Linked DNA regions of Homo sapiens: region 1 is linked to region 2. Evidence: fine-mapped expression QTL. A gene starts in region 2. The other region holds a variant in brackets. All regions are shown on one strand. Distances are from middle to middle.

Region 1 (4,396 bases), 41 kb after region 2:
TCCGCCTGTCTTGGCCTCCCAAAGTGCTGGGATTACAGGCGTGAGCCACCGTGCCTGGCCTTTGTTTTTGTTTTTCTGTAGACAAATCAGGTTTATTGAAGAATAGTGGATTATAATAACAAAAGCACTAGGTAACATTTATTGACTGTTACCTTATTCCAGGCTCTGTTCTAAATAGCTTACCTTTATTAATTTGTTTAAGCCTCACAATCTGCTGCAAGACTCAGCATGGTTAAGTAACTTGTCCAAAGTCATTCAGCTCAGTGGCAGAGCTGGGTAGGATGTGACGTAGTGGCACTTGTGTTTAGAATTACCTTTCTGATAGCCATGTAAAAGATGAAGAGGTTGGTGATAAACTCAGGCAATGGTCATGGGGATGGGGAGGAGGGGCAGATAGTCAGAAAGTAGAATTGACAGAATTGATGATCAAACAGTCGTGTGAGGGCTAGGAGAGGAAGATCTAGGATGACTTTGAGGTTCTTGGCTTGGGAAAATGGAAAGAGATGATGTCACCGTTCCAAAAACAGGGAATATTGGGAGGAAAACAGTTCTGAGAATATTTCATTCACTCATTGATTCATACATTCATCTCTTCAGTCAATATTGTCTGCCTATCCTAGATTAGGCAATCTGTTAAGTGTTGGATATACAATGTTAAGCAAAATAGACAAAATTGTCATATAGCCTGCAGTCTAAGAACAAAGTCAATTTCTGAAAACATTAAAGCTTCCATAGGCCATCAAGCTAGGCATTTCTACAAGAAGCCTTGTAGATAGCTTTCAAAATTCCTGTTGATCCTCTAAAATTTACTGGAGACCCAGCCTTTTCCTGGACCCACAGCCATGTCCAGTCCAGGATCAGGCCCTGAAATGTGTCTTAGATTCCATGCACATTCACTCTGGTCTGAAGTCAACACACATAGCCAGAGGTAGGGTGGCTCCTAGGCTTTGACCAGTACACCTGCAGCAAGCCAGCCTTGGGAGAAAGAAGATTCTATCTTTAAGGGAATATGTCCAAGGGGGCAGATTATGTGTTTAGCTTCAAGAGAAATCTGAATTGGAGGTAGACATGTGAAGGTCGTCAGCATGTATATGGTAGATTAGGCCACTCATGTGAATGACTTTGATAAGAACCGACAGCTGAAGACAGTGCTTGCAGTAGCATTAGGAACAGGTGTCCACAGAAGACTTAGAAGAAAAACCTGGATAGGGAGCAGGAAAACCACTAGAATAGTGTCACAGATTCCCAAGGAGAGGAGAGCTTTAAGAAGACAGTAATGAGTAGAATAAAATGCCCCTGAGTGATATGTAAAGCATGAGCTGACAGTGTCCTGAATATGGGTTCATTTGTACTGACCTTCATCCATTTATATATTAAGAGTCTTTGCTGGGGATTTTGGTATTGACGCAATAGATTCCATCATTATAATGAACTCTTGGGCCAACATTACCCAAGCTCTAGACTGCTTTTGGGCTTGAGGGTATTGTAATGATGGTTAAATTTATAAAGTATTCTTCCAGGATGATTTGTTCAAATCAGATATCTTAGAAACATATTTGCTGGAGTCTTCAATTTTTTATTTTTCTTCTATCACTTTGAGTTGTGATAATAGCCAAAAAGTATAGAAAACAAGATTTTTTTCTTTGGATAGTTGATCTATTAAGGTGGAGTTTTAGTTTGCAACAAATCCAAATTATTGTCAGCTTGGTTATACATTTTAATTTAAAACGTGGTTTATCTGGTCTTTTCACTCTACCATAATAGAATTTTGGCCTCAAAATTAATTTGGCATCCTTTTTGTATAGGGTAGCATTTAGCATTCAGGCAGAGCACAGTGGACATGTTCTGTCTTTGCTTCATAGTATATGTGGACTCAGCTAAAGAGACTTAAATGACTGGGAGTGACTTGAACAATTGAGAGACAGAATCATTTAGAGGCTTCTTCCATGTCTGGGAACTGGTCAGGAATAAATCAGAGCCTGGGCTAAGCAGGGACTGTCACCTAGAACTCCTACATGTGACTATGTGATCTGCATGTTGCCATGTGACCTCTCCATATGGCTTGGGTTTCCTCACAGTATGGTGGCCTCAGGATATGCTGTTGGACTTATCACATCATGACTCAGGATTCCATGAGCAAGTGTTCCAGCAAACACGGTGCAAATTGCATGACTTTTTATGACTCAGTCTCAAAAATCCTGTGGCACCACAAACTCACCCAAATCAAGAATGAGTACACAAATCGGACCTCTTTATGGGAGAAATGACAAATAATTTACAGTCATGTTTTAAAACTGCCATACTTATCAAAGGTGCTCTGATAACGAAATTACAACAAAAATAATTAATGAAGATTGACTAGCTACATATTATGATGTGAGAACGGTATAGAACCTTAGTTAGAAAGACTTGTGCTGGGTTTCCAAAAATAAGAAATCATGCAAAGAACATTATCTGGATTCATTTTTGCATTCAAAAATTATTGAAAATACTGTGGTGAAAA[G/T]ACAAAGTTCTTGCTCTCATAAAGTTTACATTCTTGTAGGAGGATGGAATGGAGGGAAACAGATAATAAAGAAGTCATAAAATACATTAATAAGATGATCTATGATAGAAATATATGTCTGAAGAAAACAAATTCATTTATTAAAGATTTAGCATTTAAGAGAAATTTCAATGCTAGACCAAAGGATCTAGCTTATCACAATCATGAAAGCATGGGATATAAATTATATAAGATCCAGAGAATCTACACAAGAAGGAAAAAGATGAGATGACAAAGGTTGAGTGCTGAACAACATTTTCAGGAAGCACAGAATATAAAAACTTGGATATGCAAGTTCAAATGTCATACAAAAGATTGGATTTGAGGCCAAAGAAAAACAGAGCCAAGGGCTAGAAGCAAGGTATAACTGAAGTTGAACAAGAATGAGGTTGATAGAAAAGCACAGTGAAGTTGCTGTAATATTTCCTTTTTGGCATCAACTATGTATAGTGGATGAGGCTGATTTAAGGAATTGAGGTGAGATGTGCCATTATATACAGCAGTCTATAAATCATTAAAGAGACATAGTAGAGAGAAGTTATTTGCAAGGCATATAATTGTCAAAGAAATGACATTTAGAATATATTATAAACTGCTAGAAATTAATTTCACAAAGTCAAACAATCCAGTGGGAAAAATGGGCAAAAGATATGAAAAGAGAAATCACAGTAAAGGAAATCAATCTCCCTATAATCAAGGAAATGCAAAATAAAAAGTACAACAATGAAAAGTAATAATAGTGAACTATCATTAAATGGCATCCCACACATATACATATGTAGACTAGTTTTAGTGGTTACAATAATTAGAAGATATATATATATGTATATACTATCTTGGATAAATGTTAATAACTATGGTAGGGTAAAATCATACAAAAATGTAAAACAACATAATATTATCTAAGTAAAATTTTAAAATGTGCAAACGATACTACATAATGATTGCTGATACATCTACAGGTAGTAAGGTATAAAAACAACAACAAAATACACACCAATTTCAGGTACTAACATGGAGAGAAAAAAGGAAATGGAATTGCAGGAGAGGATTGTCTTCTATTGTACCCTTCAAATATTAATATATCTGCTATGTCTTCTTTCTTACAAAGAAGGTCTTTTTTTGTGTGTGTGTCAGATGGAGTTTCACTCTGCCACCTAGGCTGAAGGGCAGTGGTGTGATCTTGGCTCACTGCAACCTCCACACTCCAGGTTCAAGCGATTCTCCTGCTTCAGCCTCCCAAGTAGCTGGGATTACAGGCGCCTGCCACCAGGCCCCGCTAATTTTTGTGTTTTTAGTGGAGATGGGGTTTCACCATGTTGGCCAGGCTGGTCTCAAACTCCTGACATCAAGTGATCCGCCTGCCTTGGCCTCCCAAAGTGCTGGGATTACAGGTGTGAGCCACCGCGCCCAGCAACAAAAAATTAGATCTAAAGCGAATATGATAAGATACTAAACCATGTAAAATATGGCTGGTGATAGTGTACTATTTTCTGTTGTTTGAAATATTTTACAATCACCTCTTTTTTAAATATTAGAAACATAAAGCATATGGGTTATTAATATGTAATTCTTTTTTGTGAGACAACTGGGAAAAGCCACTTGTCAGATCTGGCCAAGGAAGATGTGTCTGTCCTTATCCAGTTTGGGTCATATTCTCCTCCAGTAAGACCTTTCCTGTATCAAATAAAAGTCTTGTCCTATACCTTGTTATTTAAATTTTTACTTCTATATGTCAGAATTTTAATACTGATTACAGAAAATTCTTGGTTTCTCCATTTTAAATATTCCAAAGTTCATACAGTAAATTCAGAGTTTTTTTTTTCATTTTTAATCAATTATATTTATAAGGAG
Region 2 (4,396 bases):
CAATCATAGTATTTCTCAGTGCATTTTGTTAGAACTAAGAGTGCCTATGCAAACACTTAAGTAATGCTGCGGGTGCAGCCTCTCAAGCACCCAAACCCTAAAGAGAACGTCTCTGTCTCTGCGCCTAGCCCTTTATGCGGAACTTGAGGACACCTGGTTCTTCATTCCTCAGAGTTGGCCACCTTTCTCTGGTGTCCAGGCCAGACTTCCTCATTCAGTTCCTGTAGCAGTCTGCTAATGCATTGGGTGGATCGGCCCTAGGCCGCTTTTGGCTAAAAACACCCAGGGGCGCCCAGGCCGGAACTAAGGAAGCAGGGTGAAGACCAGGCGTCTTGAGCACACCAGAGGCTCTCTCTGCGGCTTGCTGTAGCGTGGCCCGCGGGGCCACCACTGTGCCCGGACCCTGTTTCCAATTGTTTCTATGTGCAGTTTGATTTGTATGTCTATTCTTTGAGAGTCTGAAATAGGCAACGTTTTGTGAAAATCATAGAATGCTGGAGGGCCCCCCGGTTCCACGATTTCCAAATTTGAAGACAAAAATGGTAACCAGCAACTACTGACATAGAAAGCAACCAGCCTCATTTGAGAACTTACAGCTAAGTTCAGACTCTTGCAACCTCGAGGAGAAGAGGGAGTATCTGTACATATCTGGCCACATGTCACCTGGGATGAACAGGGTGACCGGTCTGTTACAGACTTGGGGGCATGGGGATACAATTGCAGTCTCTTTTTAAGGCACTAGCGAAGCGAGATTTTCATGGGTCGCGAGGTTGGTCGGTGAGGATGGGGAAGGGAAACTGGACTTTTCTGGGCGTTTAAGAGCCAATAGGGAGAGCTCCTCTAAGGTGACACTGGCCTCCGCACTGAAGCTCGCGCCTCCCGGATGCAGCTCGCCTGTGCGGGATCATGCGGGGCTGGATTTCAGGTTTCACCCTTAAAGGACATTCCCTTTGCTTGGCCCGAGTTTTCCCAAGCCAGCCGGGCTTTTGACTCTGCCAGTCTCAAACCCATTTGCGGTAGAGGCAACAGCAGGGGGCAGAGAGCAGCTCCAGCGTCTGGGGCCGGGCGTTCTCTCGGGGCCTCCCGGTCGCGCCCGGCCTTACGGTGCCCGCGTGGAGAGTGCAGCCTGAGCAGCGCCAAGTCCTGCTCCCTGTGCCTGGTGCCCTCCCTCAAGCCGTCATACGCTGCCCGAGAGAAGCCCTTCCAACCCGACTCAGCATCTTTAACCTGCTGCTTTCCCAAACAGCGCTGGCTCTCTGAGTTTGCACCCCGCTAAGACCTTTTCCCAGCCCAGCCCCGCCGCCCCGCGTGCGGGATGAACCGAGCCGGTGCCTAGCCGAAGTAAAGAGAGTCCGCCGCGGACAGAGTCCCTGCCTGAGACCGCAGGGCCTCGGAGTGTCCCCGGACCTTGGAGCCTCTCTCCAGCGTCCTCCTTGGCTATGCCCTCGGCCGAGACCCGCTTTTCTCATCTGGTTTCCCCTGTGACTGGCCCTTCCTTTGAAGTCTGCCATCACCTCTCCTGGTCCCAGGACCTTGTCTTTCTGGCCGCGGACGGGCTCTAGCTGCCCTACACGGGTCCCCGCCCTCTGTCCCGGGCACACACCCCCGTGGGCATGCGCCCCTCACTCACTGTCCTGCTGCGGGGTGTCGCTGCCGCTGGTGAGTCCCGGCGACTCCAGCAGGCTCCGGCCAGCCTCGCCCACGTTCTCATCCGCCTGTGCCGCCACCATGTCCCCGGCTTCCTCCAGGTCTAGCAGGTGACTGACGGAGAAGTTCTTTTTCGCCTGCAGGGTGTCGAGGTTGCCCGGGCTGTCCAAGCGGCCGCCCAGCGCCGGTTGCCGCTCCAGAACGTGCCCGTAGCTGGAGGTCATGGTCTCCCCCACCGATCCCACCCACCCCCCTCTTCCCGCTCGAATCAACACCAAACGCTGTGGGCGCGAGGGGGGAGAGGAGCCGAGTGGGGAAGAAAGAGGGGGGTAGTGGAGAGAGAGAGAGAGAGAGGGAGGAAGAGGGAGGGAAGGAGAGGAAGGCCAAAAAAAAAAAATTGGAAAAGAGGGTGGGGGACCCCCTTCTGTAGAGCAGAGCGTTGTGCACCAGCCGCCTTCCGCAGCATTGGTTGATTTCCTGAGGCCAAGTCCGGCGCGGTCCAAAGAGATAATCCACAGTAAAATACAATATTAAAAAGTCACCCTATGTTCAAGTCAGGAGAAAAAAATCCCTTCCAACTCTCCAAAAGTGTCCACACGCACAGACTAAAAATAATAACAAGGGGGAGAGAGGAAAGCGGAGGCCAGCAGGGCGGGGGAGTTAGGCAAACAGAAGAAGAGAGAAGAAGGGGTGGGAGAGAAGAATCAAAGTGAATGGTTTTTTTAAAGGTTAAAAAAGTTATTCCCAGGCAAGAGTTCAAGCACCAACAGAAGAAGGCTTGTTCCAGCTTTAAAACATCTTCAAGAAAACGTGTTCCCCCCTCTCTGCACTCCTGTGGATTCTCAGGAGTGACTAAAGTTTCAGGAGGAGAGGGTGATGTCTTGCAGATGTATTAGAGAGCAGGATTCTCACTTTACTTTTTGTAAAGAGTAAAAAAAAAAATTAAGAATTAAAAAAAAAAGGCTTCAAGAGTCCGACGGAGGGTGCTGGTGGGTTCCCCCCTTTCCCCTTCTCTCTCTCCCCCTCTTCTTGCTGGGCTCCTTTTTCCTTCTCAGTTGGATCAAGAAGCTCTCTGGCACTTCAAAAGGCACAAACTGGCATGCAGAGGAGGCTTTGTAGGGAATACAAGAAAATTGGAGACCCCTGGGAGGGCAGATCTCGACTTAATAGGAGCCTGTAATTACGTGGCAAAGCCTTTGTGCTGTGCCTGACGTTTCACAGACCCCCTTTCTCCATCACAATCTCCTTCTTCCTCCTTTCCCTGGGACCAAAAAACAGTCTGATTAAGAAAACCCCCTTTGCCAACATCAGAGTTAGAGAGAAAGGGAGAGGGAGGGAACAAGAGAGAGGGAGGGAGAGAGGGAGGGAGGGAGGGAGGAAGGGAGAGAGAGAGAGAGAGAAAGAGAGAAGAGAAATGAGAGAGGGAAGAGAGCAAGAGAGCCCCTTTGGATTTCTAAAGGTCTAATTATCATTCCCCTGCAATAATATCACGGGGAGAAAAGACAAACTGAAACTCACAGTCACTTCAAACGTGCTGATTATTTTGCTTCGGCATTAACTCCTCCAGATTTGTTTAAGATCCTGTTGGAAAATCTCATTTGCATGTTTTGATAACAGCTGTGGGGAAATTTGGAAAAAATCCACCACCATCACAATCAAATTTTCTTCTCCTTCTGCCTTCCCCCAAACCGCCCCCCCCCAAAAAAAAATTTTCTGCTGTTCTAACAGTTTGGGGCGGAGTACAGGGAGAAAGTAAGCATATTAAGGCTATTTTTGGTTCCGTAGAGGGAGCCTATTAAATAATGTAATAAAAATAACAAAAGGGATGATAATAGGAAGTTCTCTCACGCCTCTCGCAAGGACTAAAGGCAGGTTGGGGAGATCCAGAGGGCACCGAGTTTATTTGAGGCTTTCCCCGCCATTAGGCATACCAGGACTAGGGCAATGAGAAAAGTACGTGTTTATTAAACTGGAAGAAAGGACTCCAAATATATATTATAATCTTTCTCCCTACCCCCGCCAATTTTGTAACTTCTACGGTAAGGCCAAAGTTGCTTCCCCAGGCGAGGACGCTAAACCCAGAGGGTCCCGCTGCCCAGATTCCTTGAAGCAGGCAGGAGCACTCCCAGAGGCAGGAGTTGGGGAGGCTTCCGTGCGGTTCTGCGTCCAGCCTGGCTGTGGTGGCAGGAGGACAGAGAGGGGCGGAGGAACCCCCATCTAAGTCTACGGATAATCCTCTGTCGTCCGTCTGCGGAGCCCTAACCTGACAGAAGACAGAGAGGTGCTGAGCAGTTTTTTCATGACCTGTTGGAATTTGGTAACAGCTTTAACAGTCTCATTAGAAATGAGTTACTGTATGACGACTCAGTAAAATATTAAGTGCTTATTTGTGGCGTTTTATGTTCTTTAAACGCGCACTCACACACACACACACGCATCCGTACTCCCGCACTCCCTTGATTGCTAGACTTTTTTTTTTTTTCGTCCTATAGTCAAGAGGCTCGACTGGAGAGAAAGAAGGGTACGAGTGTGTGTAAATGGTTTCTGGGCTCCAAACGGCCATAGTTAGCCCAGAACTTCCAGCCCTGATCTGGGAAAAGAACATTTGATGCCATCAAAGGGCTGTAGATTGAAACCAGATGTGCTCGCCTCGGTTCTTTCCATGCATTTAATTAAGGAACTGGGATGGAGGAGACTTTTTCATCATTAGTCCACCCACTCCCCCCTCCTCTCGGCGGTCTTTCGCCCT

Which allele goes with the higher level. Alleles are on the strand shown, and positions count from the first base shown. SD is a standard deviation of normalised expression in the study named.
With allele G in place of T in region 1, the expression in cerebral cortex of the gene that starts at base 1,959 in region 2 is higher (moderate effect, 0.49 SD a copy in GTEx).

The links. PIP is the estimated chance that this variant, and not a neighbour inherited with it, causes the effect.
Region 1: its variant is the best candidate, but not a certain one, in a credible set for the expression of PRRX1 in cerebral cortex (GTEx, PIP 0.71).

Annotation. Positions count from the first base shown.
Region 1 is chr1:170,621,093-170,625,488 of GRCh38, reverse strand. No RefSeq gene overlaps it. Among named protein-coding and RNA genes, the nearest start is that of PRRX1, 41 kb to the left of the region's middle. The variant G/T (reference allele first, on the strand shown) is at 2,504.
Region 2 is chr1:170,661,694-170,666,089 of GRCh38, reverse strand. PRRX1 (paired related homeobox 1) reads right to left here and starts at 1,959. Exons shown (of 4, transcript NM_022716.4): 1 at 1,631-1,959. The coding sequence starts at 1,871. RefSeq lists enhancers at 466-1,326, 2,527-3,054.